5 linked regions of the Homo sapiens genome follow. The protein of the gene in region 4 purifies or fractionates together with the protein of the main gene of each other region. This does not show direct contact. Each region holds a gene or a part of one and is shown on either strand. Other genes may lie near its edges. The genes, in order: TMPO, HMBOX1, UACA, HNF1B and GFPT2.

The links.
Region 1: the proteins of HNF1B (region 4) and TMPO purify together in Homo sapiens (affinity purification with mass spectrometry, with the first as the bait; one large-scale study listed by BioGRID). This does not show direct contact.
Region 2: the proteins of HNF1B (region 4) and HMBOX1 purify together in Homo sapiens (affinity purification with mass spectrometry, with the first as the bait; one large-scale study listed by BioGRID). This does not show direct contact.
Region 3: the proteins of HNF1B (region 4) and UACA purify together in Homo sapiens (affinity purification with mass spectrometry, with the first as the bait; one large-scale study listed by BioGRID). This does not show direct contact.
Region 5: the proteins of HNF1B (region 4) and GFPT2 purify together in Homo sapiens (affinity purification with mass spectrometry; one large-scale study listed by BioGRID and IntAct). This does not show direct contact.

What each region holds. Positions count from the first base shown.
Region 1 is NC_000012.12:98,524,736-98,530,904, reverse strand, and holds part of TMPO (thymopoietin), read right to left. Parts: intron 3,020-6,169; coding exon 2,893-3,019; intron 1-2,892. UniProt on the Homo sapiens protein: May help direct the assembly of the nuclear lamina and thereby help maintain the structural organization of the nuclear envelope. Possible receptor for attachment of lamin filaments to the inner nuclear membrane.
Region 2 is NC_000008.11:29,011,507-29,017,675, forward strand, and holds part of HMBOX1 (homeobox-containing protein 1), read left to right. Parts: exon of another isoform or gene 1-12; intron 13-3,528; exon of another isoform or gene 3,529-3,616; intron 3,617-6,169. UniProt on the Homo sapiens protein: Binds directly to 5'-TTAGGG-3' repeats in telomeric DNA. Associates with the telomerase complex at sites of active telomere processing and positively regulates telomere elongation.
Region 3 is NC_000015.10:70,683,074-70,689,242, reverse strand, and holds part of UACA (uveal autoantigen with coiled-coil domains and ankyrin repeats), read left to right. Parts: intron 1-1,422; coding exon 1,423-1,493; intron 1,494-1,596; coding exon 1,597-1,703; intron 1,704-4,796; coding exon 4,797-4,978; intron 4,979-6,169. UniProt on the Homo sapiens protein: Regulates APAF1 expression and plays an important role in the regulation of stress-induced apoptosis. Promotes apoptosis by regulating three pathways, apoptosome up-regulation, LGALS3/galectin-3 down-regulation and NF-kappa-B inactivation.
Region 4 is NC_000017.11:37,729,757-37,735,925, reverse strand, and holds part of HNF1B (hepatocyte nuclear factor 1-beta), read left to right. Parts: intron 1-2,104; coding exon 2,105-2,369; intron 2,370-4,095; coding exon 4,096-4,331; intron 4,332-6,169. UniProt on the Homo sapiens protein: Transcription factor that binds to the inverted palindrome 5'-GTTAATNATTAAC-3'. Binds to the FPC element in the cAMP regulatory unit of the PLAU gene. Transcriptional activity is increased by coactivator PCBD1.
Region 5 is NC_000005.10:180,300,463-180,306,631, reverse strand, and holds the end of GFPT2 (glutamine--fructose-6-phosphate aminotransferase [isomerizing] 2), read left to right. Parts: intron 1-1,692; coding exon 1,693-1,860; intron 1,861-4,047; coding exon 4,048-4,209; intron 4,210-5,023; coding exon 5,024-5,068; 3' UTR 5,069-5,934; downstream 5,935-6,169. UniProt on the Homo sapiens protein: Controls the flux of glucose into the hexosamine pathway. Most likely involved in regulating the availability of precursors for N- and O-linked glycosylation of proteins.

The sequences.
Region 1 (6,169 bases), on a different chromosome or scaffold from region 4:
TAATACAGGCCTTTCTATAGACCATCTACTGAAAAGCCATGTATGACTATTTTTGACTGAAGTCTTGCATTTATTTTCTCTACTACTACGTAATAGTACTTGCCAAGGTAGAAAAATCACATGTAAGCGGATTGTACCTCTATGAAAAATAACTATGATTAAATTTCCACAACTCTAAGACATTAATATGCCTGTATTCAGTTATGGGGAAAAGAAAAGTTCTATAAATCAGATTTAAATATAACAACTTTGCAGTTAAAATGACCTTTTATGGAAAACACATATCACAAAGCAAAATTGATTACAAATTCTTAATACATTTGAACATCAGTGACAGTTTAAAACCAAAATAGATTTTGTTTTACATTAACTGTATTATCTTTCCTTAACTCCTGGTAAGATGAGCAAAATGATAATGGATATTTTTTAGAAGCAACATGTGTCCAGAAATGTTATATAAATAGCCTTAAGATGAACAGGTCATACATCAACATATAATTTAATGTAGGCTGATATTATAACACACATTTTTCAGTGTCTCCCTTTTGGAATTTCTTTTTTTTTTTTTGAGACAAGGTCTTGCTCTGTTGCCCAGGCTGCACTGCAGTGGTGCGATCATAGCTCACTGCAACCCTGAACTTGTGGGCTTAAGCAATCCTCCCACCTTTGCCTCCTGAGTAGCTAGGACTACAAGTGTGCACTACATGCCTGGCTACTTTTTTTTTTTTAAATAGAGACAAGGTTTCACTATGTTGTCCAGGCTGCTCTTCAACTCCTGAACTCAAGCAATTCCACCACCTTGGCCTCCCAAAGTGTTGGGATTACAGGCATGAACTACCATGCCCAGGCCTTTTAGAACTTTAAACAAAAACATTTTTTAAAAGTGTTATATATCTGTTGGTACTTGTATATGAATAAGCTTATGATTATTTGGAAGCAGCTTATACATTAAAACAAAATATTCTAAATCTTTATTTGCAACTATACCTATAGCAAAACCTACCAAATCTCTAGCGTCCACAATTTTAGGTAACTTAGAAGATCAAGACCAGATGCAGTGACTCATGCCTGTAATCCTAGGACTTAGGGAGGCCTAAGTGGGAGGACTGCTTGAGCCCAGGAGTTCAAGACCACCCTGGGCAATATAGTGTGCCCCCATCCCTACAAAAACTACAAAAATTAGCCGGGAATGGTGGCACGTGCCTGTGTTCCCAGCTACTTGAGAGGCTGAGGTGGGACTGCTTGAGCCTAAGCTGAGGCTGCAGTAAGCCATGACTGTGCCACTGCACTCCAGCGTGGACAACAGAGCAAAGACCTTGTCAAAAAAAAAAATAATAATAAAATGGAATTTTCTCATCTTGAGGTTATTGCTAAGACCCTCCAAAACTAAGGCATAATCAACACTGCAAAATCTTCATCACCTAAAAGTAATCCAACGATGGAAATCCAGTGTATTTAGTCCTAGGTTTTTGTTTTTTAAGGGTATAATTCCTCAATTCCAATCAAGATAGGACTTTCAAAAGGGTACTTTTAATGATAAATGAAAAAGGGGCTCAGCGCGGTGGCTCACACCTGTAATCCCAGCACTTTGGGAGCCTGAGGTGGGTGGGATCACCTGAGGTCGGGAGTTTCAGACCAGCCTGGCCAACATGGCAAAACCCCATCTCTACTAAAAATATAAAAATTAGCCGGGCATGGTGGCAGGTGCCTGTAATCCCAGCTATTCGGGAAGCTGAGGCTGGAGAACTGCTTGAACCTGGGAGGCAGAGGTTGCAGTGAGCCAAGATCACACCATTGTACTCTAGCCTGGGCAACAAGAGCGAAACCCCGTCTCAAAAAAAAAAAAAAAATAGGGTACTAGGCTAGGAATTTAATAACTTCATTAAGAAGAAGTCTGTCACTAACTCACTTTTTCTTTTTCCCTTATTTATTTATTTTTTTTGAGACAGGGTCTTGCTCCACTGCCCCTGGCTGAAGTACAGTAGCCATCACGGCTCACTGCAACTTTGACTTCCCCCCACCATCTCAAGCAATCCTCCTGCCTCAGCCTCCTAAGTAGCTGGGACAATAGATTTGTGACACCACACCCTGCTAATTTTAAAATTTTCTGCAGAGATGGGATCTCCCTATGTTGCTCATGCTGTTCTTCAACTCCTGGGCACAAGCAATCCTCCCATCTTGGCCTCCCAAAGTGTTGGGATTACAGGTGTGAGCTACTGCGCCCGGCCATTAACTCATTTATTTGGGCAAATTTGCCCAGCTATGTTACCTCAGATTTTCCTCAATTGTCATACAAGACCCACGTCTCAGCAGAAGTACGATATAAGTGGCCAGGCACGGTGGCTCACACCTGTAATCCCAGCACTTTGGGAGGCCGAGGCAGGCGGATCACAAGGTCAGAAGATCGAGACCATCCTTGCTAACACGGTGAAATCCCATCTCTACTGAAAAATACAAAAAATTAGCCAGGCGTGGCAGCGGGCGCCTGTAGTCCCAGCTACTCAGGAGGCTGAGGCAGGAGAATGGCATGAACCCGGGAGGCAGAGCTTGCAGGGAGCCGAGATCGCGTCACTGCACTACAGCCTGGGCGACAGAGCAAGACTCCGTCTCAAAAAAACAAAAAACAAAACAAAACCAAAAAAAAAAAAAAAAAGTACGATATAAGCACCATATAAAACAATCTCAACAATAGAGGTAATTTTGGAGATTATCTAATTCAATCCTCTCATTTTATTTCACTCATTTACAGTCAAAGAAACACAGGTTCTGCTGATAACAAATGATTAATGACAAACCAGTCCTTGGAACCTAAACTGCTAAACAAAAAGGAGAAAATAATTTGGGGTCCTGCTTCAGAGAAAAGATACTGTATTTGAAATTTTATCAACTTACCCACAATAGGACCAGGATTCACTCCGTATTTCACAAGCTGATCCAAAAGATCTTCATTAGTGAGCTCTGTTACATCTAGATCATCTTTATCTTCTTGTCTGGGTTTATCAGTTTTTTTTGTGGCTTTCTGTAAACAAAGTCCAGTAATCATTTCCATATGAATTAAAGTGTTCACTTACTAGATAATAACCTGTATAACATAAACATGCAAACTCACTACCAAATTGGTTTATAGTAATATTAGGCCTTAGCAATTCCATTAAATTAAGAGCAACTCATTATTGGAGAACACTTTCTAAGTTGAACTGTAATCATACAAACCGCACAGCCAAGCAAGTAACTTAAAGACATTGTTGTTAAAATAGTCCATTTTGGATTACCTATCTAAAAGAGATAGTAATGGCATCAAAAATGCAAAAGAGCAACTAAAAGTAAAACTGACTTTGGGTAACATTTTCTTTTAAATAACCTTTTTTTTTTTTTTTTTAATGATACAGGGTCTAGCTATGTCACCCGGGCTGGAGTACAGTGGCTCCATCTCAGTTCACTGCAACCCCCACCTCCCAGGCTGAAGCGATCCTCCCACCTCAGTCTCCCAAATAGCTGGGACTACAGGTGCGCACCACCACCCTTGGCTTTTTGCCTGTGGTTTTTTTTTTTTGTTTTTTTTTTTTTTTGTAGAGATGGGGTTTTTGCCATGTTGCCCAGGCTGGTCTCAAACTCCTGGACTCAAGTGATCAGCCCACCTTGGCCTCCCAAAGTGTTAGGATTACAGTTGTAAACCACTGCACACAGCCTAAATAACCAAAAATTATATTTCATTTCTTAAAGCATATAACTCCAATGGCAACGGAAACAGATCAGCATGAACCATGGAAAGTAAAGCCAGACTGGGCTTAACATTTTTCATCTAAATGATCATGAATGCTACTTACTAACTTTTTGATAATCCTTAAAAATTTAAATTAATCCAGGAAAGTTTAAGACTTTACCATACAGGCTTACACTTAGATACATATATAGAAATGATTTTCTTTTCTTTTTCTTTTTTTTTTGGAGGTGGAGTCTCGCTCTGTTGCCAGGCTGGAGCGCAGCGGTGCAATCTTGGCTCACTGCAACCTCCGACTCCCGGGTTCAAGCGATTCTCCTGCCTCAGCCTCCCGAGTAGCTGAGAGTACAGGTGTGCGCCACCACGCCCAGCTAATTTTTGTACTTTTAGTAGAGACGGGGTTTCAACATGTTGGCCAGAATGGTCTCGATCTCTTGACCTCGTTATCTGCCCACCTCAGCCTCCCAAAGTGCTGGGATTACAGGCATGAGCCACTGCGCCCGGCCAGAAATGATTTTCTTTAAACAGCATATGAGAACTTAAGAAGGCCAAATGAATACAGTTGGCTCTCCATTCTCCCAAATGAATACAGTTGGGTTCTACATATGTGAATTCAACCAACCACAGATCAAAAATACTTGGGGAAAAAAAAGACAATACGACAATAAAAACACTAACAAAAATACAGTATAACAACTATTTACATAGCACTTACATTGTATTAGGCGTTATAAGTAATCTAGAGATGATCTGAAGTATAAGGGAGGATGTGTGTAGGTTACTACACCACTTTATATTAAGGGACTTACTAAAGCATCCCCAGAGTTTGATATCCATGGCCGGGTCCTGGAACCAATCTCCACCCCAAGGATAGGAGACAGGACTGTAAACTCCTTGTAACACAGTTATTTTAGTAGCTAGTTTATGACTTAGGAAGGAAATCTGACAGACTTCATGGTTAAATTATCACCTGTGACACAGTTTAGTCACCAGATTAACTTCTGTACCACCAGTTTACTAAAAATAGTCAAAATAACTTGAAACAAACTTTGAGGGAAAATTTGAAAGTTTTAAAATTAATTTCTACAAAGGCAGTATTTACTGGAAAAACTATAAATTTCCAAGGTTGAACAAATAAAAAGGAAGCAAAAGTACGGATACCTTTTAAGGCTGTGGCAAACAGCCTGACAAATGCCTCAGTGATCACAGAAAAAACATCAGAGTACTGAACAAAAAAATGGCTAATTAAACAATGGCAACATCAAAGTAAATTTTACGAAAAAGGCTAAAATTATCAAGTTGTATGGAATGCTCACTTTCCAATAATATTAGGGGGAAAAATCAGTCATGATTTGACTATGTACTGGAATTACTGTTTTTAACAATAAAAATGTTCTGACCTAGAATTGTCAGGCTCAAATCAAATCTTTTTTTTTTTTTTTTTTGAGACTGTGCCTCACTCTTATCCAGGCTGGAGTGCAGTGGCGCAATCTTGGCTCACTGCAACCTCTGCATCCAAGGTCCAAGTGATTCTCCTGCCTCAGCCTCCTGAGTAGCTGGGATTACAGGTGTGCACCACCACGCCCGGCTAATTTTTGTATTTTTAGTAGAGACGGGGTTTCAGCATGTTGGCCAGGCTGGTCTTGAACTCCTGACCCCAAATGTTATGCCCGCCTGAGCCTCCCAAAGTCCTAGGATTACGGGCGTGAGCCATGGAACCTGGCCTGAAATACTTCAAATAAAGCAAGATATGAGAAATTCTTTTTAAAAAGCTGCTAATGGCTAATCATTCTATAATCAGAAGCCAAAAAACCTTCACCAAAAAAATAGCTGCTCATAAGAACAATTATGTCAACTTACGAGAAATCTTAAATAGACGGCTGTGGAGAGTTACAGTGAGAGTACTTTTAGCAGGCTTTAATTCACATACATTGCACTGACCTAGAACTGTCAGGCTCATATCTGGAAGCAACCCACACCATAATATCCAAATAGTTGCCTAGGGTCTAAGAGTTCTAAGACTTATTTCTTTCAAGAAAAGATTTAATCAAACAAACTTAATCCTATGTTACTGACTTACTCAAATTTTCCAAAAAGTGCAGTCAGGTAGTACAGAAAAACTAAATAATGCTTAAAATAAAAATAAAACATGGAAAAACAATCAATCAGGTTCAAATTATTTGTACATAATCCCCACTACCACGAGAATGTTCAAATTTACTATCAATAAAACATCCAGGAAATTCCAACTTTTCAAACCCGCCTGAGAGGTTTTCAAGAAATCTCTTTGGGCCAGGTGCAGTGGCTCATGCCTGTAATCCCAGCACTTTGGGAGACCAAGGTGGGTGGATCACTTGAAGTCAGGAGTTCGAGACCAGCATGGCCAACACGGTGAAACCCCGTCTCTTTTAAAAATGCAAAAATTAGCCGGGTGTGGTGGCACATGCC
Region 2 (6,169 bases), on a different chromosome or scaffold from region 4:
GGATAATCAACTGGTAAGGCCAAATTCCCGCACTGGAGTTTCGGGGCTGGGCTCTAGTCCAGCCCTGAACTAGAAATAGGAAGGACGACTAAGGTGCAGCTCTAGGGCCACAATGGCATTGTTGCAGCTGATCTGATAGCCAGTTGTGGAATACTAACTACAGGAGTCCAGCTTTAGCACTGGGCTGATAGTGTTCTTCCAAAGCTGGTTTTTTTTTTAAATTATTGTTATTTATTTTAGCTTTTAGTCTTAATTTCCTATTTTAGTTTATCTTGAAACCAGTATTGGGAAATTAGAGGAAGGTAGAACTAGGGAATTGAAACCAGCAGCATTCATCTAGCTGATAATTAGGAGCTGATTTCTTTAAGTACATAGTGCCTCCTTTTAAGACGTTCCTCTAATTATATGCATTTGTTTTTCAGTAAGATTGCATTATTGTCACCTTTTAAAAAGTACTTTCTATTTTTTGTTTAAAAACCAAATCCTAACTACTGGTTTTCTCAGTCAAGTTTTTCTGTGGGACATAATTTAAAGGTAGCTAGAGATAAGAGGGTAAGTTCGTAATTGCCATTTGGTAGTTGTTGTTGCGTTAACAGCAATTGGGTATTAGCAACTGAAATTTGTTTGTCTTTTTCTTTGCATTTTGACATTTATTATAAAGGCAAATATCACATAGAATTCTTTCTCGATAAAAGTGATTTTGTTTTGTTGACTAAAATAACCTTTGATTTTAGCTAAAGAATTTGGAGCTACTATTATGTTTGGTTAAGATGAACTAAAATTATGTTAGCTTATAGGACAGCAGATCCTTCATTGCAAGTCATTTCAGACCTGATTGGAATCCACCCAGATGTCCCTCAGTTGAGAACTGGTTAAATAAATTAATGGCACATCTGTACAATGGAATCTTATGGAGCCATATAACTACTTTTTGAAGGCAGCTTTATATGAATTAAATTTATATGAGGTGATATGGAATTCATAAGTAAAAAAGGTACATAACAGTATCAAGGGCATATTTATGTAGGGGAACACACACACATACACATGTATATGCTTATCTAAGCATAGAAATCTCTGAAAAGCTGTGTTAGGAACTGGGAAGAATAGCTCTGTGGAGGGGAACTGAGTGACTGGGAGTACAGGGGTAAGGAGTTAACTACACAGCCTAATGTGTCTTTCTAAATTTCATACTATGTACTTGTATTATATATTTGAAAAATAAAGTGTAATAGGAAGGGGGAGACAGACCAAAAGAAATCAATCTGCCTTGTAAGATTAAAAAGAAAGAAAGAAAAGGAAGAAAAACTTAGGTTTATACAGTCCAGACCTGCTTTTGAGAAGCAGGTAGAAAATAAGTTGTCAGTGATTTTTATCAAGTAATTCTTTTATTTCATAATTTTTTTTTCTGTCTAGGAAAGATAGCTCTTTAGGGTAAATGTAAATAGTGTGATCCCTTTACATATATTCTGAGAAGAAAATGCAAAATTAAGAAAAGTCACAAAATGAAAAACTACTTTTTCTTTTTTCTTCTGTAAATTTAAGCATTTAGAAAACAAAAATGTTTGTATATTCTATGACTCTATTCCTGGGCGTTGGAGCATTTCTCTTTGTATACTTTGAGTGAAGTCCTTTTGTTGTTGTTGTTGAGACAGAGTCTAGCTCTGCCACCAGGCTGGAGTGCAGTGGCGCAATCTTGGCTCACTGCAACTTCTGCCTTTCGGGTTCAAGCAATTCTCCTGCCTCAGCCTCAGGAGTAGCTGGGATTACAGGCACGTGCCGCCACGCCCAGCTGATTTTTGTGTTTTTAGTAGAGATGGGGTTTCACCATGTTGGCCAGGCTGGTCTTGAACTCCTGACCTCGTGATCCACCCACCTCGGCTTTCCAAAGTGCTGGGATTATAGGCATGAGCCACCGCACCCAGCGGAAGTTCTTTTTTTCAACCTCTTCAGTCTGGATCCAGTTGTATATGGCTTTTGGTTTTTTGTAAGTTTCTCTTTAAGTGGACTCATCAAGAAAAATAATAGAATGGATATTTAGGTTAATTTTACTGATAACCCGATTGATATAGTGTAGTTCTCTGATAACAGACTCATCATCAGAATTTACCAGCATAAATGAAAGCCTGCCAAGGCATATTAATAAAATAGGCTGATGGAAACTAATCAAATACATTTTATCTTGTTTCTTATGAAAACACTTATAAGAAAATACCTATTTTTTAAAAAAAAGTGAGTGCTAAATTCAGGATGGTTGACATCAAAAGTCCCTTTATTTAATCAAATTAAGTTCACAGTCTTTTTCCCTTGTCTAATTTAAACATTACTATAGCAGACAGGGTTTGCTGAGTTCCTCTTGGCATGTGGTGCATATTCTGCATGCTTCTAAACAATTAAATAAAATTTGCCAAGAGGGTTATGCAGCAAATACATGAGATAAATGTCATCAGAAGAAACATCCAGTCCTTCACTTGCAGAGTGTTAGATCTCAGGGAAACGTGTGTGACATGGGGGAAGATGTGAAATTACTTTTGGAGAGGTTAGTTCCTATGGATGGCGTAGTAATGATGTGCTTATAGTCCCCTCACCCAGAGCTAACCCTGATCAGCAAGGACATTATGATATATGTAAAGAGAACACTTACCAAATTTTTATATGTCTTAACAAGTTATGAAAAGAGTTTTGGGTTTTTTTTTTCCTCATGGGTTTAGATTTGCTAGGTGAAGGTGCAAAATTTTGTTTTAATGGAAACTTAGATGGGGGGAAAAAAGATTTCTGTAAGGAAATAGACAACACACTTTTCCTGTTAGGACCTTAGCCAACCCAGAATTCCTGTATTTTACTTCAGAGGAGTTTAAAGGCTTAAATACATTGTTCCTGCATTCTAGTGTCTTTGTGTTTTTCTGTTAGAGTCAGTAATTTTGAACTCGCTCTTGCTTTTCATCCATTTCAACCAAAGCAAGATGAACTAAGGTTTCCAGAACAAATCTGTTATTAATAGAGTGTTTCCAGAGTACTTTTTTGTGCTGTTTTTAACTACTGCTACATTGAAAAAGAAAAAGGAGCCAGAAAAAAATCTGAAAAGTAATGTAACATTATGTTTTAAAGTAGGTATTTTGATGAATTTAAGATTATTCATTTTTCACCTTCTGTGTGTAAACTGTCTTGATTTCTTTTTTTTCCCCCACCCCGAGATGGAGTATCACTCTGTCGCCCAGGCTGGAGTGCAGTGGCACGATCTTGGCTCACTGCAACCTCTGCCTCCTGGGTTCAAGCGATTCTCCTGCCTCGGCCTCCTGAGTAGCTGGGATTACAGGCGTGTGCCACCACACCCAGCAAATTTTTGTATTTTTAGTACAGACAGGGTTTCACCATGTTGGTCAGGCTGGTCTCAAACTCCTGACCTCAGGTGTTCCGCCCGCCTCAGCCTCCTAAAGTGCTGGGATTACAGGCATGAGCCACCGCGCCCGGCCTTGATTTCTTTCAAAATAACCAGGCCACTACTTACTTTTCTGTCTTCTTTTTCTCCTTTTTTCTTCTCCCCTCTTCCTTTTCCTTCCTGCCCAGTTTTATTTCATCTGAATTTCCTTCAGTTCTTGAGACTGTCTTGACAATACTGAATATTACAAAGAAGCATAATATTAATAATAAACCCCAATACCAAGAAAGAACCATTATTATTAGTTGGCTTATTTCCTTCAACCTCTTGGTTAGGATTCTTTCTGTTCTGTGTTCTATTTGTACCCATTTACCACTCTGCTTACTAAGGAGCATGCCGCAATTATGGATGTGGCCTACTACCTGGAATTCACTGACCTATTGCCCACCCTCCATCCTGAAGCTCTTTCTTTCTTTACAAGGGTCAGCCCCTGGACAAGAGGTTGTATTCCCTTACTGAGTCTTATTTCTACCTTTATCTTGATCAGCCATGATAACCGGTTGGCTCTGTTTTAGTCCTTTTCACCCTTGCTATAGAATAACATTTATATAATTTTAATTAGGTAGATTCCAGAGCTCTTGCTGTGCTGTAATCCCTACTTGTTTTCAGAAAAGCACTATAAGACTGTGAAACCCTCCAGCCCCCAAATTCCTGCTTATGTCTAAACTTAGTTAACTTTCAATTAGGCCCAGACTGAATTCTCAGTTTATTTTGGCAGAATGAAACCCTTTTAAATTGTTTAAAGAAGGGTTTCAGTTTAGAATTTCATGTTGGGTAGAGCAGAAATGTTTTTAAACCAGGGGTTGGCAAACTTCATATAAAGGGCCAGACAGTAAATATTTTAGGTTTTGCAGGTTATATGATCTCTATCATAGCTACTCAGCTCTTCTGCTCCAGTGCATTCATAGCCATAGACAATCTGTAAATGAATGAGCATGAGCATGTTTCAATAAAACTTTATTTACAAAAATAGGCAGTGGGTATAATTTGCCAACTCTGTTTTAGGGTGGGCTGTAAATCTCTAAAGCATTATATGATGACAAACTTACTTGTTTAAGCAGAAATGTTAAGTAGTTAAATATTTACTTTCCATCACATGCTATAAGAAATCACATACATATTAAAGGCTGAAACACAAAATGAAAGATATAAAGATACTCAGTGATATTCAAGCCCATTGGCCATAATACAAAAGACTGACAAATTTGACTGTATTAAAATTAAGATCACAAAGCACACTATAAAAAACAAATGACAGACCAGAAAAAAATTGCATTCTGTATGACTAGCAATTGCTATGATTTCTCTGCACCCATAAGAAGAATAACCCCCTAAAAAAGGAACAACAGATAGAAATTCACAAGAAAAGATATAAATGGTCAATAAACAGGAAAAGATGCTCATTCTTATTAGTAGTGAAGTCTCTATATTAAAGGGAAATTTTTTGCTGCCAAATTTATACATTTGAATAATTAATAATAGTGTATTGGGGGATAAAGGGAAATAAACAACTGAGGATGATTGTGATAATTTTTATTAGTTATCTATTCTTATACAATAAATTATCCACAATTTAGCAGCTTAACACAACCAGCATTTATTATCTCATAGTTTTCATAGATCAGGAATCCAGGAATGGCTTAGCTGGTTGTTTCTGGCTCAGAGTTCTGTAGAGGTTGCTGTCCAGCTGTCAGCCTGGGCTGCAGTCATTGGGACTGGATGGTCCACTTGGAAACTCACTCATGTGGATGTGGACAGGTCCCAGGTCCTCACTGCCTGTTGGTCAGAGACATCAGTTCCTCACAACATGGGCCTCACCATCCACTGCCTGAGTGTCCTCACACGGCAGCTAGTTTTCCCTTGAGTGAATAAGAGAGAAAGCATCCAAGACAGATGTCATAGTGTCTTCTGTATTCTGATCCTTGAAGTGACATACCATCACTGCCACATGCTGTTGGTCGCACAGCCTAATCATGGTGCAGTGTGGGAAGGGACTATACGGAGGTGTGCAGACCAGGAGGCAGGGATCCTTAGGGACCTTGGAGGTTGATGTCCACATTCCTGTGCTGGGACTGAATGTCTGAGGCCTTGTTTCTGTCTATCACCTGGTTTCTGCACTTCTCCATGTGGCATTTGCTGTGGCTACAGTGTCCAAGATGGCATTTTCTCTCAAATGCTGGCACCTGGGTGGAGTTGGCAGAAGACCCTGGGGACTGTCAGAGCATCTTTCACTCCATGTAGCCTCTCCACATGGCTATCCTGGGCTTCCTTACAACATCATAGTCTCAGGTTAGTCAGACTTCTTATATGGCCTCTGGTTTCCCCCAGAGCCAGCATTTTAGGAGACCTAGGCAGAAATTTCAAAGCATCTTATAACCTAGCCTTGAATTGTTTAGATTTTCTTGCTCAACAACCTGTCACAGGACTGGCCCAGATTCAAGGGCATGATTAGCCAGAGGTATGACTTACTGTGAGGAGCCGTCTTTGAAACTTGTCCCAGGAAACCATGATTGTGAAAGATGATGCTGACGTGTTCTAAAAGTAGTAGCAGTGCAAGGAATAAAAATTGATCTGATACTGGAAATATTTTGAAGATAAAATGAACTTGCCTATGAATTAGTTATGTATAGGTGGGATAATTAGAGAAGTGAAAGATTAATTTGAGAATTTTGAGCTGAGTGGTTTGAAGAGTGGGTATCTATTTACTGAGATGGGAAAGACTGCAGGACA
Region 3 (6,169 bases), on a different chromosome or scaffold from region 4:
CTCATGGTCATTTTAAAACTGAATTCTTTCTATCTTGTTTCTCCACTTACCTGTGAGTATCTTCCTTAACTGCAAGGTTGAAGCAGAGTTGTGGTCGTAGCCGTATTCTAGCTAGCAGGAAGGAGGAGAGAGCCTAGTGGAATACATGCCCAAAGTCTGGAACTCAGACTTGGAAGTAGTAGATTATTCTCCATTCATATTCTACTGATAGGAGCAAAATCAATTGGCTATATTTATCTGCAAGGGAGGCTCAGAAATAAACTCTCTAGGTGACTAGTCATATTCCGAAACCTACTCTATAGTAGAAGAAGAGGAGAACAAATTTTGGTAAAATACTGCATTTTCTGCTACAGTTCAACTCTCTGGCCTTCCAAATATCTCCAAAGCCCCTACTTCCCACATACTCCCAAAGGAGAGGATATATAAACAAACTCATTTACTTCATCTAGCTCAAAGTCTAGGATTTCTGGGTGGTTTGCAGTTTTCTCTTTTTGGCTTTAAGCGGTTCTTCATGATCTAGTAATCTGTAAACTCTGGAATTTATTATGCTTTACATTTTTAAATTCTCATTTATAATTGGACGTAAAGGGTCGCTAATTTTACAGTTCCTGAATTAATGTTTTCAGGTTCAGTTTATCTTTTTCTTAAAGCTGATGATACATTTTATATAAAAGATTTGCTGGATTAGAGACGAAAAGTGAAAATTTACTTGATTTTCTTATGTTTGGTTTAATTCTATTATTTCACCAATAAAAAAAAGAATGCTCACTTTGTCAGTACTTTTTGTGCTTATAATGTATGTCAACTCATAAGGCTTAAAAAATTCATGGGGATTGTAAACATAATCCTACTTTATGAATTTAACAATAATTTTTCCTAATATAAATATGAACTATAGTGTTAGTCAAAGAAGCATAATGTGATTTTATAATTATTAGCAAAATGACCTTACTTTGCATAAAGGTAGACATTGCAATCTCTGCTTTTATGAGAAATATGAATTGTATGATTCATACTTTACTTACTGTGACTATTCTATAAAAAATGGATATGATTCTTTAAAAAAACTGAGCCAACACTTCAAGGATCAAGTCAGTTATAGCCATGTTTAAAAATATACTGTAAGTACAAAATTTAGCTTTGATTTTTATTGTCTGTGCTTATCCTTAGAATAGTAGTGTGTTCTTGTCTTCTACAAGGTTGACGTTATTCCTTGGTCCTAATAAATTGTAGACAATTTATAATCTTGTCTAATCCATTTTCAGATGAAAAATTGTGCTTATAATGCTAAACTAAGAGTGAAGGACGTGAAGCTTGGTAATTTAGAAATTGAAAAACTTATTCCTTATATGGACCTAGAAAAACACTATGTGTCTTACCAACAGATGTTCACCATTTATCATTTTCTTTTGTTCCTTAAAGCAATGGCAGATTGTCCTTCTAGCATACAGCTGCTTTGTGACCATGGGGCCTCTGTGAATGCCAAAGATGTAGTAAGTTAGTTTATGTTTATTCTCATTTCAACTCATGCATTCTAACTTCTACATTTTGGGAGATCTGTTGTCTTAATGCTGTTTTATTTTTCCTGTTGCTTAGGACGGGCGGACACCACTTGTTCTGGCTACTCAGATGAGTAGGCCAACAATATGTCAACTGCTGATAGATAGAGGAGCGGATGTTAATTCCAGAGACAAACAAAACAGGTAATTCTTTTATCATGGCTCCCAGATACCAGCTGGATACACAGGGATGGAAAGGCCAAGTCAAAGCAGCAGCTCTGTTCTCTGACTTGGCCTTTCTTTCCTGTGGGTTCTCCCCTTCCCTGGCTTGCTTTTCCTTGGAATTAACATCTACTTGTCAGTTTTCTTCAGAGTCTGCTGAAGAAAGAAGGAGAGGGAAATAGAGGAAGATGACAGGGTTAATGTGAATAAAAGCAGTGATTAGGCCTTATGTTTGGATCAAAGAACTGAAGGAGAGAGGAATTACATCCCAGGTGTTTTAAGCTTAAAAAACTCTTTAATGAAATGGGTGCAAGTAAGATACATAGGAGAAGAATTTAAAAAGTACATCTGTAGTTACTTCTTCATTAGTGAATCTTTTGAGTAAAGTGGTTCTTGAGTGTTCTGGAACTTGACATGTGTCAGTATAGATTTTCTCAAGGTGTTTTCTCTCCTTACTCTGCCAGGGTACAGTGCCATCTCCTACTCTGAACCTGTCCATTTCTGTACTGCAGAGGTCCCTTGCTTTATTTTTGCTTCTGTATTTGATACTATTTTAGTTGGTGTGCTCTAATAATTTCTATCCAGAATTCTCCCTATCTCTGTCTGTAGGTCTAATGTATCATGGTGCTTGTTGTATTACAATTCTGAAGTTTATGGTCACAAAGTATCTGAAACACACCCCTTCCATTTAATTCAAGTATTACAATAAATTAAACTAAAATTTCTGGGATTTTTGTAGTTACTAGTAAAAATTTTGGTTTCTTTTGACTTAATTTTATTCTTCCAAACATGTATTCTATTGTTTGTAGTTTATTAGAAGTATAAAAGTATAAAAAATAGTCTTTAGTTGTCAGATTTTATAGCTGTAATTGTTTTCTTTATGCATCTCAAAGGAGGAAATTCTGTACCTAATGCTAAATGACGAGTTAATGGGTGCAGCACACCAGCATGATGCATGTATACATATGTAACTAACCTGCACATTGTGCACATGTACCCTAAAACTTAAAGTATAAAAAAAAAAAAAAAAAAAAAAAGAACCCTGGCTTCTACAACTCCCCTTATCTTAACTCAAGCATTTCTTTATATTGACTTCAATTCTCCAGACAAAGCTTAATGCTTTCAATCAATTCCCAATCAGGAAATCTTTGACTTGGAAGCCCCTACTTTGAAATGTCCTGACATTCTGAGCTAAACCAATGTATACCTTATATGTATTGATTTATACCTTTGCCTGTAACTTTTGTCTCCCTAAAATGTATAAAACCAAGTTGTAACTCAACCACCTCCGGCACCCATTCTCAGGACCTCCTGAGGCTGTGTCATGGGCCATGGTTGCTAACATTTGGCTCAGAATAAACCTCTTTAAATATTAAAAAAAAAAAAAAAAGATGTGATTAAGAAGTGGCTTTTTAATATTACTTTGTTTTTGTGGATACTATCATCTGATTCCAAGCATGATGAAGAAAATTGGATTTTAAAATTAAATTTTACGGCTGGGCGCGGATCACTTGAGGTCAGGAGTTCAAGACCAGCCTGGCCAACATGGCGAAACCACATCTCTACCAAAAATACAAAAATTAGCTAGGTGTGGTGGTGCGTGCCTGTAATCCCAGCTACTCAGGAGGCTGAGGCAGGAGAATTCCTTGAACCCAGGAGGCGGAGGTTGCAGTGAGCTGAGATCATGCCACTGCGCTGGCAACAGAGCGAGACTCTTGTCTCAAAAAAAAAAAAGTTAAATTTAATTTTAGGATCACAGAGGGATAATCTGGTTGATCTACATACAGTGCTTTATATTTTTTATAGCTCTCACATTTTTCAAAGCACTTTATCTATGTTTTTTCATTGGGCATTCACAAAAAGCCAATGAAGCAGGGCAGTGTATATTGTATAGACTAAATAGCATATGGTTTTCAACATAATTTATAACCTTAGTTTCTAATACTCTATATTCATTTCTTTTTTTCCTGTTTTATATGTAGCATTTTTTAAATAACAAAAACTTTGTTAATGCCTGTTTTGTACAGAATTTCTTATCAGCAACTACAGGGGAGTTGGGGGACAAGGCTTGAATATGAGAAACACAGCATACATAGCAGAGAAAAGGCAAGAGTCAGTTTCCTTAAGAGATCCAATATTCACAATTGAAGACAGAGTTAGATATAGGATATGTCATTTCATTTCATTACGTGTTGGTTAGCCCCATCCTAAAAAATAGAGGATTAGACAAAATAATTTCTAGGGTCCTTCTAGATTTTCATGACAATTATTTTGTTGCATGATTAGTATTTGCTGATGTACTGTGAGATGTTTGAGTGCCAGTGGTTCTATTGCAATAGAATAAAGCAATGATCCATGTTGCATGGCGTTAGTTGTAGTCTGAAGATGTGAAGGTCTTCAGGTAGAAGAATCAAGGTTCTTCTAAGCAGGAACATCAGGAATGGAATCTGATACTTCTCTTGGAGGAGAAGGGATTCTTAGGGGAGGTTTGCATGATGTGGTTCAGTTCATGAAGGGACTGAAAAAGTTGGGTTTTGATCACATGGGGTGACAGTATCAGTTGTGGAAAATTTTTGTGGTGATTATTTACGTGTAGGACATTGAAGAAGTGGAATAAATGAGGTTGGTTTGGTAGTAGAAGTAATTAAAGGATATAAGGATATAGAAGACAAAGCAAATGTTTTTATAAATGCAATGAATATAAAGTAAAATCTATATCTGTAACAGGCATGACTTCTTAAAGTAGTGTCTATTCTTCAAGAAGGGAGCATGTCTTAGTGTTCAAGTAAGTGTTCAAGTAGTGTTGAACACTTACTTGAACTTAGTGTTCAAGTAGAACTACAGTTTATAAGAAGCAAAACATTCCTTACTGATAAACAGTATTGGTTCATCTCCCTCTACAACATGGATTTGCTTACTTACATTATAGTCACTTGCTTTGAGGCAGTGTGTGTTGCATATATAATCTAGTTTATCCAGTGAACACTAAGACAGTGTTCAACAATAGGGCAGAATATTTCTGCAATATTTCCTTGGAGTTTTCTCAGTCTTTTGCTCTTCCATTTTTCCATTTAGAACTGCCCTCATGCTAGGTTGCGAATATGGTTGCAGAGATGCAGTAGAAGTCTTAATTAAAAATGGTGCTGATATAAGCTTGCTGGATGCGCTTGGCCATGATAGTTCTTACTATGCAAGAATTGGTGACAATCTGGACATTCTAACCTTGTTGAAGACTGCATCGGAAAATACCAACAAAGGTATCAGCAGTTTTCTGTAACTAGAAAAGTCCACATTAACAAAGAGCCACTTTTTAAAAGACTTAGGTAGTAGAACTACAGTTTATAAGAAGCAAAACATTCCTTACTGATAAACAGTATTGGTTCATCTCCCTCTACAACATGGATTTGCTTACTTACATTATGGTCACTTGCTTTGAGGCAGTGTGTGTTGCATATATAATCTAGTTTATCCAGTGAACACTAAGACACTGGAATAACTTCAGAACTGAGAAGGAAGAGTCAAGTGTTTTACTAAGTTTTTTTTTTTTTTTGATGAAGAGGGGTGAACCTCCCAACTTTTTATACTTACGAAGTTTTAAAGAATCATTGTTTAAACATGTATGTAAAATAGTCAGCTGATATTTACCAAATGCCTATGCCATGATTTTTTATGTTTTTTTTAAAAAAAACAGGAACATACAGAAAAGCACAATGAATAGTCACTCATTACCACTGAGAAGCCTCTGTTAACATTTTGAGAAATATCCTTCTAGTCTTTTCCCATTAAATTGAATTCACTGTAAATCTGAATTGTAGCTTACTTTTTTATGTAACCTATTTTGAAGGCCTTTCCCTCAAAAATAGTTTTTCTATAGTATGATTTTTGTTGGTGTATGAGATTCCATTTATTTAAGTTTCATTTAATAAAGCAGTTTTCTACATGTAGTGTTTAAGCTATTTATAATTATTCATTAATACACAAAGGTTATGACTGTCCTTATGCATAAATATTTTAGTATATTTTTATTACCCTTTAGGGTCGGTTCCTAGAAATTGAATCACTGAGTTTCAGGGCATGCACATTTCTTTAAGCCTTTGGTCTATGTTGGCAAATTGCCTTCGAATTTAGGAGCTTTTTAAATTTTCTTCCCCTCTTTTTTTTTAGATATGGGGTCTCCCTTTGTTGCCCAGGCTAGAGTATAGTGGTGCCATCATAGCTCACTGCAATCTCAAACTCCTGGGCTCAAGTTATCTTCCTGCCTCAGCCTCATGAGTAGCTGGGACTACAGGCATGTACCACCATGGCCAGCTAATTTTTTATATTTTTTTTGTAGAGATGGGGTCTTGCTATGTTGCCCAGGCTGGTCTTGAACTCCTAGCCTCAAGTGATCCTCCTGCCCCAGCCTCCCAAAGTGCTGGGATTACAGGTGTGAGCCACCATACCCAGCC
Region 4 (6,169 bases):
AGTCAGATGTGGTGGCCTGCACATCCGTAGTCCCAGCTACTTGGGAGGCTAAGGCGAGAGGATGGCTTGAGCCCAGGAGGTCAAGGCTGCAGTGAGCTATGATCGTACTACTGCATTCCAGCCTGGGTCACAGAGCAAGACCTTGTTTGAAAAAAAGAAAAAGTATAACCCCCAAAGGAATTTGGGCCAACATCACTATCATCCTGACTAGGGGTAGATATTCTAAAAGACTAGTTAGTGTCCCTAAGCTTTCAGTCAGTCTCATTCCACAGCTGGGGAGACTAAATGATGAGGGAATTAAGCTGGGGCCCCACATGATCCCACTAGCAGTGACTTCCTGCTAGTACATTTGACAGGGACTCTCTCAGGTCTATAGTGGCATTGTTGGGCACCACTGAAAACAGAGCCCTAAGGTGGCCTAAGAATCCTCCAAGGTGAATGGGCCGAAATCAAAGGCCCCAGTGACACCATCAGTCCACAGTTAAACAAAGCCCAACACCACCTGCAGTTGGGATTGCAAGTCTTGGCGGGCTAGGGGCCCTAACCATTCCTCCCGATGGAGCAAAATGGAAATGAGCCTAAGACAGGTGGTAAGTTCCCTGCTGCTGGAGGCATATAGCCTGGAGGGCCACTTGGTGTGGGGTTGTAGAGGGGATTCAAACGTTAAGTAGTAGCCTGACTTGAACCTTGAGGATTTTGGATCCAGTTGTCCAAAGGAACAGGAAGGATGGCATGTAAATGATGGCACATCATTTACATCACAAAGGGAGGTGGTAGCCTTCCACTTTCTGTGACCTGTGGGAGTAATTACAGGAACTGAGAAAGAAAGTCATCAAGGTCGGGCACGGTGGCTCACACCTGTAATCCCTGCACTTTGGGAGGCTGAGGCAGGTGGATCACCTGAGGTCGGGAGTTTGAGACCAGCCTGCCCAACATGATGAAACCCCATCTCTACTAAAAATACAAAAAATTAGCTGGGCATGGTGCCGCACACCTATAATCCCAGCTACTCAGGAGGCTGAGGCAGGAGAATTGTTTGAACCCGGGAGGCGGAGATTGTAGTGAGCCGAGATCACACCACTGTACTCCAGCCTGGGCAACAAGAGGCAAACTCTGTCTCAAAAAAAAAAAAAAAAGATATTAAGATCCAGAACATAGGGACCCAGAGCTAGGAGATGAATGTATTACGTGTCTTTGCTCAGCAGAGTGCTTAGCCTCCATGTTTATTCATCTTTAAAATGGAATTAATCACTCCTGATGAGCCCTGCTTCATGCAGATGTGAAGACGAGGACAGCAAAGCTTTCTTCTTCGGTAATGTAGATATCAAATCTCATTAAACCATGTGGGCTAAGGCATCACCTCTGGGCCGAGCTGCTGGTTCTCATTCATTCCACAAAAATCTCCTGATGGTCACAGTATGCCTGGACTCAAGGAATTGGACAGACAGGGAGCATCATTTCCAGCTAATTAAACACTACTCCCAGACAGGTCCTGTGTTTGTAGTCTTTGAAATTATTTTGAGATCTAAAGCACATTTTCTTTTTCCAATACAAAGCTCCAGTTATATTTATTTCAAAGCATGTTCCAAAAGGTTTGGGGTTTTTCTAAAAACCTGACTTTATAATGTAGATACCTAGGATATAGGAAGAGGGAGGAGAGGTGGGGAGTGCTATCTACAGCCTCTGAATATTTTGTGCAAGTGTAAATTGTACCTTTGAGCAGTTCTCCCCTGGATGTGAGACTTGATTGAGCTCACCCACTTGACATCAAATACAGGAGTTCAGGATGCAGAGTGTTGCTTCATCTCTGAAGGCCAGTGAGCCAAAGGGGAAAAAATAATAATTTTCTTAAAACTATAGCTGGCTATGTTTGAGCTCCTTCAAAGAAAGGAAAAGGGTGGCTTTGCTGGAGCAACTGAGGTGGGCAGTAAGGGCCTGTGCTGAGGGCTCCCCATCTCCAGCTCCACATGCAGTGAGAGAAGGTTGCAAAGCTTAGTTAGACGAGGGGAATAAAGGTGTCTTCGTCCGTTGTCTGTCTGTCTGTCTGTCTGTCTGCTGAGTGAAGGCTACAGACCCTATCAAATCTACTCCTTTCTCTTTTCAGAATTCAACCAGACAGTCCAGAGTTCTGGAAATATGACAGACAAAAGCAGTCAGGATCAGCTGCTGTTTCTCTTTCCAGAGTTCAGTCAACAGAGCCATGGGCCTGGGCAGTCCGATGATGCCTGCTCTGAGCCCACCAACAAGAAGATGCGCCGCAACCGGTTCAAATGGGGGCCCGCGTCCCAGCAAATCTTGTACCAGGCCTACGATCGGCAAAAGAACCCCAGCAAGGAAGAGAGAGAGGCCTTAGTGGAGGAATGCAACAGGTAACACCACCAGAAGCTCACCTGGGCAGGTGGGCAAGTACACAGACCCAGGAACCCTCCCCTCGGTCCTGGGATATTGAGACACTAGTTATACAGATAAGTGTGGCTAAATCAGAGCTTCTCAAAGTATGTTCCACAGAACCCCAATATCAATTCATTAATCAGTAAGTCTGAGAATCAGCATATGGATACTTCCCCTTAGAGAGTCACAACATATATTAAAGGTTCCGAGAAGCCCTGCAGTCAAGAAACCCACTTAGCTTTGTTGAATTGGTTGTTAACTATGGAATCTTCGGTAGAGTACAAACAACCCCATGAATTATTCTTCCAGGGAAGATACTCTGGAGAATGCTAATTTAAAATATGATACTTGGGAAGCGAAATTGTGTGTTTGACCTCCCTGCAGGCCAGGGTAAAACTTTCCCTTAGCCACAGACTCTAGATCTGGCCTCTACCAATTGTCAGACATGCAGTGGTCCAAAAGGAAACTTGGCAGGAGAGTAAGAATTGGTCAGATCTGTTCAGTCCACTCTGCCCCCGCTGACTCAACAGAGTTCTTTTTACTTGTTAACTACCAGCCAGGCACGGTGGCTCACACTTATAATCCCAGCACTTTGGGAGGCCGAGGCGGGAGGATTGCTTGAGCCCAGGAGTTTGAGACCAGCCTGGGCAACATGGTGAAACCCTATCTCTATTTAAAAAAAAAACAAAAAAACAAAAAAACAACTCTGTGTTATTTTAAGTATTTATTTTTAAAATGTGGTCTTGCTATGTTGCCCAGCAGATCTTGAACTGGGCTTAAGCGATCCTCCTGCCTTGGCCTCCTAAATAGCTGGGATTACAGGCTCTAGCCACAGGGCCCAGCTATTTTTTTTTAAACGATTGGAAAGCCTTGGGAAATCTTTTTACTTCATTCCTGCCCTGTTCTCCCTGACTCCAGTATTGACTTTCTAAAACTTCAGCTCTTTGGTCTGGCCAAGGCCTGTGTGCGCTTTCTCTGTCTCTGGGCTGGGCTGGCCTTGGCTGTGGGAAGAATGCAGCCAGGGAGGTCAGGCTGGGAAGCAGGGAGGCCTGTATTGCCACTGAGTCCTCAGGCTGTGCTCCATACCCCGACTAATGAGATGCCTTGCAGCACCCAGTAGTGTCTAAGAATCTCTCGCACCTGGTTTTGAGGTTTCACCAGCCCTGATAAAGCTAGAGACTGGCCATCTCAATGCACCCTGCTTTGTACCCCACCCAGCCTGCCTTTTGGAGGGGATAAAGCATCTTGCTTCCTGGCACTCTTTCAGGGAGTTCAAGCCCCAAAAGACCAGAAATCCTCTCGAAGTGCTTTGAAGCCACTCAAGACAGAGCCAGCGAAGGGCTTTGCCTTTTATGTGGTGGGAAGAATGGCTAAATAAGGAAGCCCCATCTGGACCTTCCCCTGGACTGCCTGTCCCCGGCTTGCTCTCTTCTCCTCGAGAGCCACACCAGAGCCTAAGCCCCTGACTCCCAGGGCGGCATAGCCTGCTCTGTCCCTGCGTTCAGGCCCACTTCAGCCATCTTCATCAGATCACTCCATGGATTGGCCTTTTCTCTGCATAGGCCTCTCCTCCCCAGCCTTCCATTCTGCCCACGGCCCCTTCATACTCCCAACCAAGACTGCTGTGATTGTGTGTTTTTGGCCAAGCACCAACAAGTCCCCCCGCCCCCCCTCACTCACCATCTCCCCTCCATCCATTCCCAGGGCAGAATGTTTGCAGCGAGGGGTGTCCCCCTCCAAAGCCCACGGCCTGGGCTCCAACTTGGTCACTGAGGTCCGTGTCTACAACTGGTTTGCAAACCGCAGGAAGGAGGAGGCATTCCGGCAAAAGCTGGCCATGGACGCCTATAGCTCCAACCAGACTCACAGCCTGAACCCTCTGCTCTCCCACGGCTCCCCCCACCACCAGCCCAGCTCCTCTCCTCCAAACAAGCTGTCAGGTAAGCAAAGGTTGGGCCTCACTGCCTCGGCAACCCAACCATCCTGGTTCTTGCCACGGATCTTATCTGGTTTAAGGGTTTTCAGAGGAGCAAACGCTTTTGAGATGATCCTAGGGCCGCTCTCTCATTGCCAGAATATACTCCCCTGGAAATAATGTGTGGCTCTGATCAGTTTCCTCCAACTCCTGGTTCAGCCATTGCCCTGTGAGGGCTCACTCGGCTTCCAGGGAGCCCTTTACCCTATTTGTCTCCTTCCCTCTTCTTCTCCCTGTGTGGCTGCTGACTCAGCGGTCATTCTACACTGAGGAGGCTGCCTTATGGGTGGGCCAGATCCAAACCGCAGGCAAACGGGTCGTGATGGCGTGGCAACCCTCACTGTGTTGGAGGATGGCACTCCGGCCACCTCCTCCATCTCTGGCCATATCCTGCCCCTCGCTCGGTCCGGCTGCCTCAGGAGAAGCTCAGTAGCCTTTGGGGACGGCCACTCTGTTGGTGGCCTCTGCTTGTTGGCTTCCGTGTGTCATCAGGGTTGGTGGGGGTCAGTCACTTGAAATCTTTGCAGCAATGAGTTGGGAAAAACTGACCGAGTACCTGCTCCATCATGCTTGATTGAGTGCTCCTGTGTGCTGGGCCCTGGCCTGGATTAGAATGCCTCTGCTGTGGGCTTTGGGTTTGTCAGGATGGAATCCTACAGCCTCCTTGGGGGAAAGCACACCTCATGCTGAGCGCTGTGTTAGGCACAGGCTGGGATGGAGCACTTCTTCTGGTCCTTCATTCTTCTGGCAAAGCTGGCTTCCTAGAATGGATGTGCTCACTGGGGTCTGTGTGGTGCCCATGAGGACAAAGTGTAGCAGCCTCCTGCCTGCTCCAAGAAAAGGGCTTGCGAAAGGAAAGCCAAACACTGTTTCTAACTCAGGGGTGATTCTGAAACCTGTTGGCTCCCCTCACCTGTCGGTTGCCCTTCTGATGAGAAAGGCCTGAGGGCTGGGGGCTGACCCAAGTGTTGAGGGGACCAAAGCCACCAAGACAGGCTCGGAGCCATCAGCTGGGTGGTGTACAAGCATTTGTTCCATGCCTGCTGTGCCCTCCCATAGCACTGCCTCTTCCAGGGCCTCTGGGAGCCTGACAGTGCCCAGCATGAAGGTGGGGCCAGTGCTGGGGGTTTCTGTAGGTCCCACTCCCACAGAGGAGAGAGGCTCAGCCACACAGGAAGAAAGTCTTGGTTACTTAAGAGGCAGAGAAGCCCCTAGGCAAAGACTGGCCTGATTGCAGAGTAACTTCGCCCCTTTAGGGAAATTCAAAGCAGGGTTCTGAGGGTTGTGGCAAATGGCACATGGCTGGCACTGAGCAGTACCAGTGTGCTTGCCCACCACAGCGATCCACGGAGCTGAAGCTGGGAGCTACAGGGGGCGTGGTTGGGGCAAGGGGCATTACTGGGAAGACAATGGCCATTGTGTTGGGACCTGTGATCTCCACACCAAAGTCAGGGAGCCTGGAAGCCAAACAAAGGCCCAGCAGCCTTCTGACAAGCAAGGGCTGTGCTGAGGTCACCACGGGGTCGTTGGTTTAGGCATCCTGTGTGCTGACAGGAGACCCAGAGAGCTAGGGCTGGAGGGACAGGGAGCAGGGCAGAAAACACAGCCTGTGTACTCCTCTGACTGGAGTCTAGGAAGGGCGTGTCCCATGGGAAGTGGATACTCTGGGGTGCCCCTGAAGTCTGGATCTTTCTAAAAATCTTGTAATGTTAGAATTTGGAGGGAATTTGAAGAAAGGAACTGAGGCCCAGAAAGAGGCAGTGATTTGCCAAAGTGACACAGAGCAATGGTAGCAAAACAAGG
Region 5 (6,169 bases), on a different chromosome or scaffold from region 4:
ACTTCGAAGGCCTTGCTTTTTCAAAAATTGGTGACAGGCCATTTGCCCCCTGCAGCATTAAAGATCCACGCCAGGAAAGAGAAAGCTGATGGGGCAGGGACAGGGTGCCAGGGCCACAGGGCTGCCCAGAGGGTGGGCAGAGAGCCGTGCAGGGTCCTGCATCTCGGACTTGCCCTTTCCTCGCTGTCAGCATGCCATGCACGGAGCAGATGCTCAGCCCAGGTGACGGGGACAGTGCTCCAGCTGAGGCTGCACTGGCCACCAAGACGAGGGCATTAACCGTGGCCCAGCTGGGCTGCCATCCTCTCCCATCTCCTCCCCACCACCCCCATTTGAAAGACAATGCTAGGCTGGCACAGTGGTCCACGCCTGTAATCCCAGCACTTTGGGAGGCCAAGGCAGTCAGATCATTTGAGGTCAGGAGTTCGAGACCAGCCTGGACAACATGGTAAAAGCCCATCTCTACCAAAAATTCAAAAACTAGCTGGGCGTGGTGGTGCACGCCTGTAATCCCAGCTACATGGGAGGCTGAGGCAGGAGAATCGCTTGAATCCAAGAGGAGGAGGTTGCAGTGAGCCAAGATCATGCCACTGCACTCCAGCCTGGGAGACAGAACGAGACTCCCATCTCAACGAAAAAAAAAAAAAAGAAAGAAAGAAAAAAAAAAGAAAGACAATGCCAGTTACAAGTGGTTACCGGAAACATTCAGAGTTGATTTCCTTGGTCTTGGTGGGGAGTGCAGGGCTGTCCTCACTGAGCTCCATCTCCTGCACCTGCCCCCTGGAGATTCTGACTCCTGTTAAAGAACAGGCAGGTGCTGCTTCTTGGAGTGCAGTAGAGGCAAGGCCTGGGGTGCACTGTCAGTCCCCAGATGACTCTGCGTCATGGGTGGGGGCTGAGCTGCGGTGGCTGAACGTGCTGGCGGGAGATGCACATTGCAGCTATGCCTCCGCATGAGTCTGCTGAAGGAAGAAGCGTTTAGGTGGCTGCTGGCACGAGCCCATGGTCCTCTGGTCACTGGGAGGCCGGCACTGCAGCTGTCTGCGCCTCCAGACTGGAGCCGCACTCCTTACAGTGTGGCCCTGACCTAAATCAGCAGTGCTAGCGGGGAGTCGAGAGATGATTTATTTGACTGTCTCACCATTTCAATGACGTGGATTTGTGGTAACTGAATAGAGATGGATCTACCTGAACACAGGAAAAAAATTAATTCAAATAACACCCCAGTTTGTGTGATTTTGCTTGGAACCACTCTTTAGAAGTTATTAATGGGCAAATGCTTAATCAGATAATTAACTGAAGGTGTAGCTAAGCTGAATACGATGCTGTCGTTATACACGTGGCTGGCTAGGGAGGAGCAGGGGGTGAGCTAGGCTGACTCCGACTTGTTTGTCCTAAGGGGTGGCTGTGCGTGGGACTGGAGAGAGACAACAGCAGTGCCCGGGGCTGGTGTGGGGACACAGAGGTTGTGTCCCGGGCTGGTGCATGCTCTGGATGGTAGCCAGGCCTCTCCCCAGGCCCTTGCTGGGTGTCCTCAGTGCTGTCAAGCACTCCAGGCATCTGTCTGCCTTGCAACCCTTGGCTCTCTGCCTTCCAGAGTCATCCTTCCCCTGGTTCCCCTTCTTCCCCTCTGGCTGATCTGCTCCAGCCCCATCTGCCCAGTGTGACTCTGATCTCACCTCCTGTTTCCAGAAAATTAAAGAGATAACCTACATGCACTCAGAAGGCATCCTGGCTGGGGAGCTGAAGCACGGGCCCCTGGCACTGATTGACAAGCAGATGCCCGTCATCATGGTCATTATGAAGGATCCTTGCTTCGCCAAATGCCAGAACGCCCTGCAGCAAGTCACGGCCCGCCAGGTGAGGGCTCTCCACTGGACTGGGCCAGCTCTCTCCTGCTTTTCCCCATGCATGCCCACCTCACCACTGTCTGCCAGTACCAGTGATGGATGGTCTGGCCAGTGAGTGGCTGTGACCACACACCCTCCCCCGGGCCGCCTGTGGGGAGTGCACACACTTGGAAAGGAGCTGGTCAGCCCGCAGCTGTCCCACACAGCTCTTTGGTGGGGCCCAGGGACCCACACTGCTGTGAGCAGCACCAGATCCTAGCCTGGAGCTCAGGGGAGGTACTCCTGGTGGACATCCCTGGGGCAGGGTTTCCCCAGGTTCTGCGGCCAAGCAGCTCCGATGGGAACTACCTGGAGTTAGGTCAGGTCTCATAGGGCAGGGGCACAGCTTTCCATAAGACTGCCCTCGATTCAGGCACCTGTTGCAAGCCAGGGGTCCACCCACACATCTGAGCAACTGACTATGAATCCAAGGATTCCCACTCTCCCCTGAAGTTCAGTAATTTTCTAGAACGACCCATAGAACTCAGGAGATGACTATATGATTACAGTTTTATTATAAAAGATATAAATCACAGCCAACCCAAAAGAAGAGACCCCTAGTTTGAGGGCCCCAGATGTGAAGCTTGTGTCCTCAGGATGTGTCACCCTCCCAGCACGTCACTGTGTGTCGCCCGGGAGCTCCCCTGAGCTGCTAGCTCCAGTGTCCAGAGTTTGTATTGTGGTTTTATTAAGTAGGCAGGATGGAGTGAACCATTGGCCATGTGATCAAACTCAGTCGCCAGCCCCACTTTTGTCCTTGGAGGTTGGGAGGTCAGACTGACAGGCTCATGTCTCAAAGCCCCAACCTTCTAATCATGTGGCTGGCCTTTCTAGCAGGGCCAGACGCCATCCTGGAACTATCTACAGGCCCACCACGAGTCGTCACCTTAGCATAAAGTTAGGTATAGTCCAAGGGACCTCCCATAAATAACAAAGATGCTTTTGTCACATGGGAAAGTCCAGAAGCCAGGAGCTCCCTTCCTGGAACCGGCCACAAAGACCAACCAAATGCTTTGTACACAGCAGCTGCCCTGAGGTAGGAGGGCAGAGTTCATGAAGTTTCGGGGAGGTGAAATCCAATGAGGTGCCCCATCCAGATGTTGCCACCTGGCTCAGCACAGAGGTCAGAGTGAGGGTATAAAACACAATGGCATCATTTCCCCACTTAAAACCCTCCCATACCTGCCTGTCAAGCCACAGAGACCCACAGTCCTGCGTTATCTGGCCCTTTCCTCCTGTTTCAGTGAGTTCCAGGCACTCCAGCTTTCCTTCTGCGTCCCACTCTCATTGCGCCCGCGCCCGCCTCCGGGCCTTTGCGCTGGCCGCTCCTGCTGTCTGGAATGCCCTTCCCACAGAATGCTCCGCCGAGGGTTGTCCCCTCATCATTTAGGGTTCAGTCCAGATGTCTCCTGTTTTTGAGAGAGCTTTGGAGACCTCACCAGTCTCCCAATGACATTATCCTGTTTTCTAGCCTTGGTGGCATTTCTTTGGAATTCATTTTTTTTTTTTTTTTGTGACGGAGTCTGGCTCTGTCGCCCAGGCTGGAGTGCAGTGGCGCCATCTCGGCTCACTGCAAGCTCCGCCTCCCAGGTTCACGCCATTCTCCTGCCTCAGCCTCCCCAGTAGCTGGGACTACAGGCCCCCGCCACCACACCCGGCTAATTTTTTGTATTTTTTAGTAGAGACAGGGTTTCACCATGTTAGCCAGGATGGTCTCGATCTCCTGACCTCGTGATCCACCCGCCTCAGCCTCCCAAAGTGTTGGGATTACAGGCGTGAGCCACCACGCCCGGCCTGGAATTCATCTTTATTTCTTGGTTTGCTTGTCTAGGTTTTTGTTTTCTACCACTAGACTATGAGCCCCGCTAGAGTTAGGAGTGAGTCTGCCCCGCTCTCGGCAAGGCACAAATGGGTGCCAAATGATGCAGCAGGATGGCAATCTCCTTACCAGGGAAGGGGAAGAAACCCCCAAAAAGCATCAGACACTTTATCCTTTCCAAGCATTTGTGTCCCACACATACCACCTCACCCATGACTCCAGCAAATGCAAAAGAGGACTGTTCTCATCACAGTAATGTAGCTTCCAGATACTCTGTATGCATCAGGGATAGCTTCTTTCAGAGAGGGTCTATTTTATGATGCTATTTCTCTGCTCTAGGGTCGCCCCATTATACTGTGCTCCAAGGACGATACTGAAAGTTCCAAGTTTGCGTATAAGACAATTGAGCTGCCCCACACTGTGGACTGCCTCCAGGGCATCCTGAGCGTGATTCCGCTGCAGCTGCTGTCCTTCCACCTGGCTGTTCTCCGAGGATATGACGTGCGTCTAAAAACTGCACCTAACAGCAGAGAGGAGAGACATAACCCCAGAGTTCCTTTCTGTTCTTTAAATACTTGGAGTAAATAGTCATAGAGTAAATAATTTTATTTAAAGTAGCTTTCTTTTTTTTTTTTTTGAGATTGAGTCTCGCTCTGTCGCCCAGGCTGGAGGGCAGTGGCACAACCTCGGCTCACTGCAAGCTCCACCTCCTGGGTTCAAGCGATTCTCCTGCCTCAGCCTCCCGAGTAGCTGGGACTACAAGCACCCGCCACCATGCCTGGCTAATTTTTTGTATTTTTTGTAGAGACGGGGTTTCACCGTGTTAGCCAGGATGACCTTGATCTGACCTCGTGATCCACCTGCCTCAGCCTCCCAAAGTGCTGGGATTACAGGTGTGAGCCACCGCACCCGGCCCAGTAGAAGCGTACTTATGAACCATTCCTACCTTTCCTTCCCACTCCACCCTAAACAAATAAGTCCCATGGAATTCATATATATTCTTGCAAGAAAAGTTAATTTTTAACAGTACACACCAAGTTACCTGTGTTTAAAAGCATGAACCTTATTCTTTAAATCATGTTAACAGATCATGACACACATCAGGTGCACAGTAAATGTTTATTGAGGGACTAAACCTTATACGGTTAAATGAGGCTTCTGGACTAAGGAATCTGCCTCCAAGACGCAGGTCTCTAGGTTGGTGACCATGGTGAACATCTGTCTCTTGTTTTTAAGTACTCTGAAAATTGTCTGTGAGAGGTAGCATGTTGCTGAGATCTTTGGGGTCCTGAACAGTCACTTTCTTTCATTTTAGGTTGACTTCCCCAGAAATCTGGCCAAGTCTGTAACTGTGGAATGAGGCTGAGACCGTGACAAGACCATCACCACCTTTCATCTGATTCCAGACCTGTCCCAACAGCAGGGATGCTACATGGGAAGAGAAGTGGACATCCCACATGTTCTGCGTGCTCCTGTAGAGCTTGACAGCTTCCACGTGCCTTCTACCCAAGTGCTTTTGCTTACAGCAGATACTGTTTCTCTGTGTCCTGAAGTCGCCAGAGGAGAAGGGAATCATTGTTTACACATGGGGATCAGAGCAGACTTCTCCACTACTGTGCAATAGAGATACAGCTCTCTTCAGAGTAACTGTGAACCTTTTATAACCAACACTAGAGTTAGTTTTAAAAGACAAGATATTTATAATGACGACTGTATAGCTTTTAAGTTATTTTTCTAGTATGTGGCTTTCTGTAGCCGTGGTAACGGCCAAACTGTTCATCCTAGCTACCCATGCTCTGTGTCCAGGCTTGCTCCTGGCAGGTGGCATTCATCTCAGATGTGAGCACAAGGCATTGGCCCTCTGGACTCCTTTCTCCTTTTCTTTCCTCTCTAGGCTGCTCCTGAATCCTGTTCTCTGACATCCGTGGAGCCCCTCCTGCATCCACCTATGCCTCCTATAAGTCCAGTTGAAATCTCAGCCTCCTTCAACATTTTCTTCTCGTGTGTGGCCCACATCCCTCCACTTCTCCAACTTCTGTTTAATCTGATCACGGCTCTTTTTAAGCCCTGGCAGCATTTTGGTCCCTGCTCCTTGCCCATAGTAAAACAGCTTGAAATATCCCATGCAAGAGAGTAGTTTCAAGTGGGCAACTCTGCTCTCTATTTAAAAGCGTGCACAATCAAAAGTACTATGCAATTTTAGGACAATAAAGAACATACAGTTTTTTTGTGTGTGTTTGCATTTTGTTAACCTCATTCTTTTTGTGTACTTTGAATTTTGAGGACTGTGCAGGAGCTCGGCAGTGTTTGGAGGGGCAGCCCTGTTTGTTAGTAACATTGGCCTCGTCCACACCTGAGACCTATGGGTTTCTAGTAGGAAAAGGAGGGCTGTTGTCCAGGATACAACAAATCCAAGAGATTTGGGACTCAGCAGAGGGGCCACTGAACCTGGAAGGGGTTG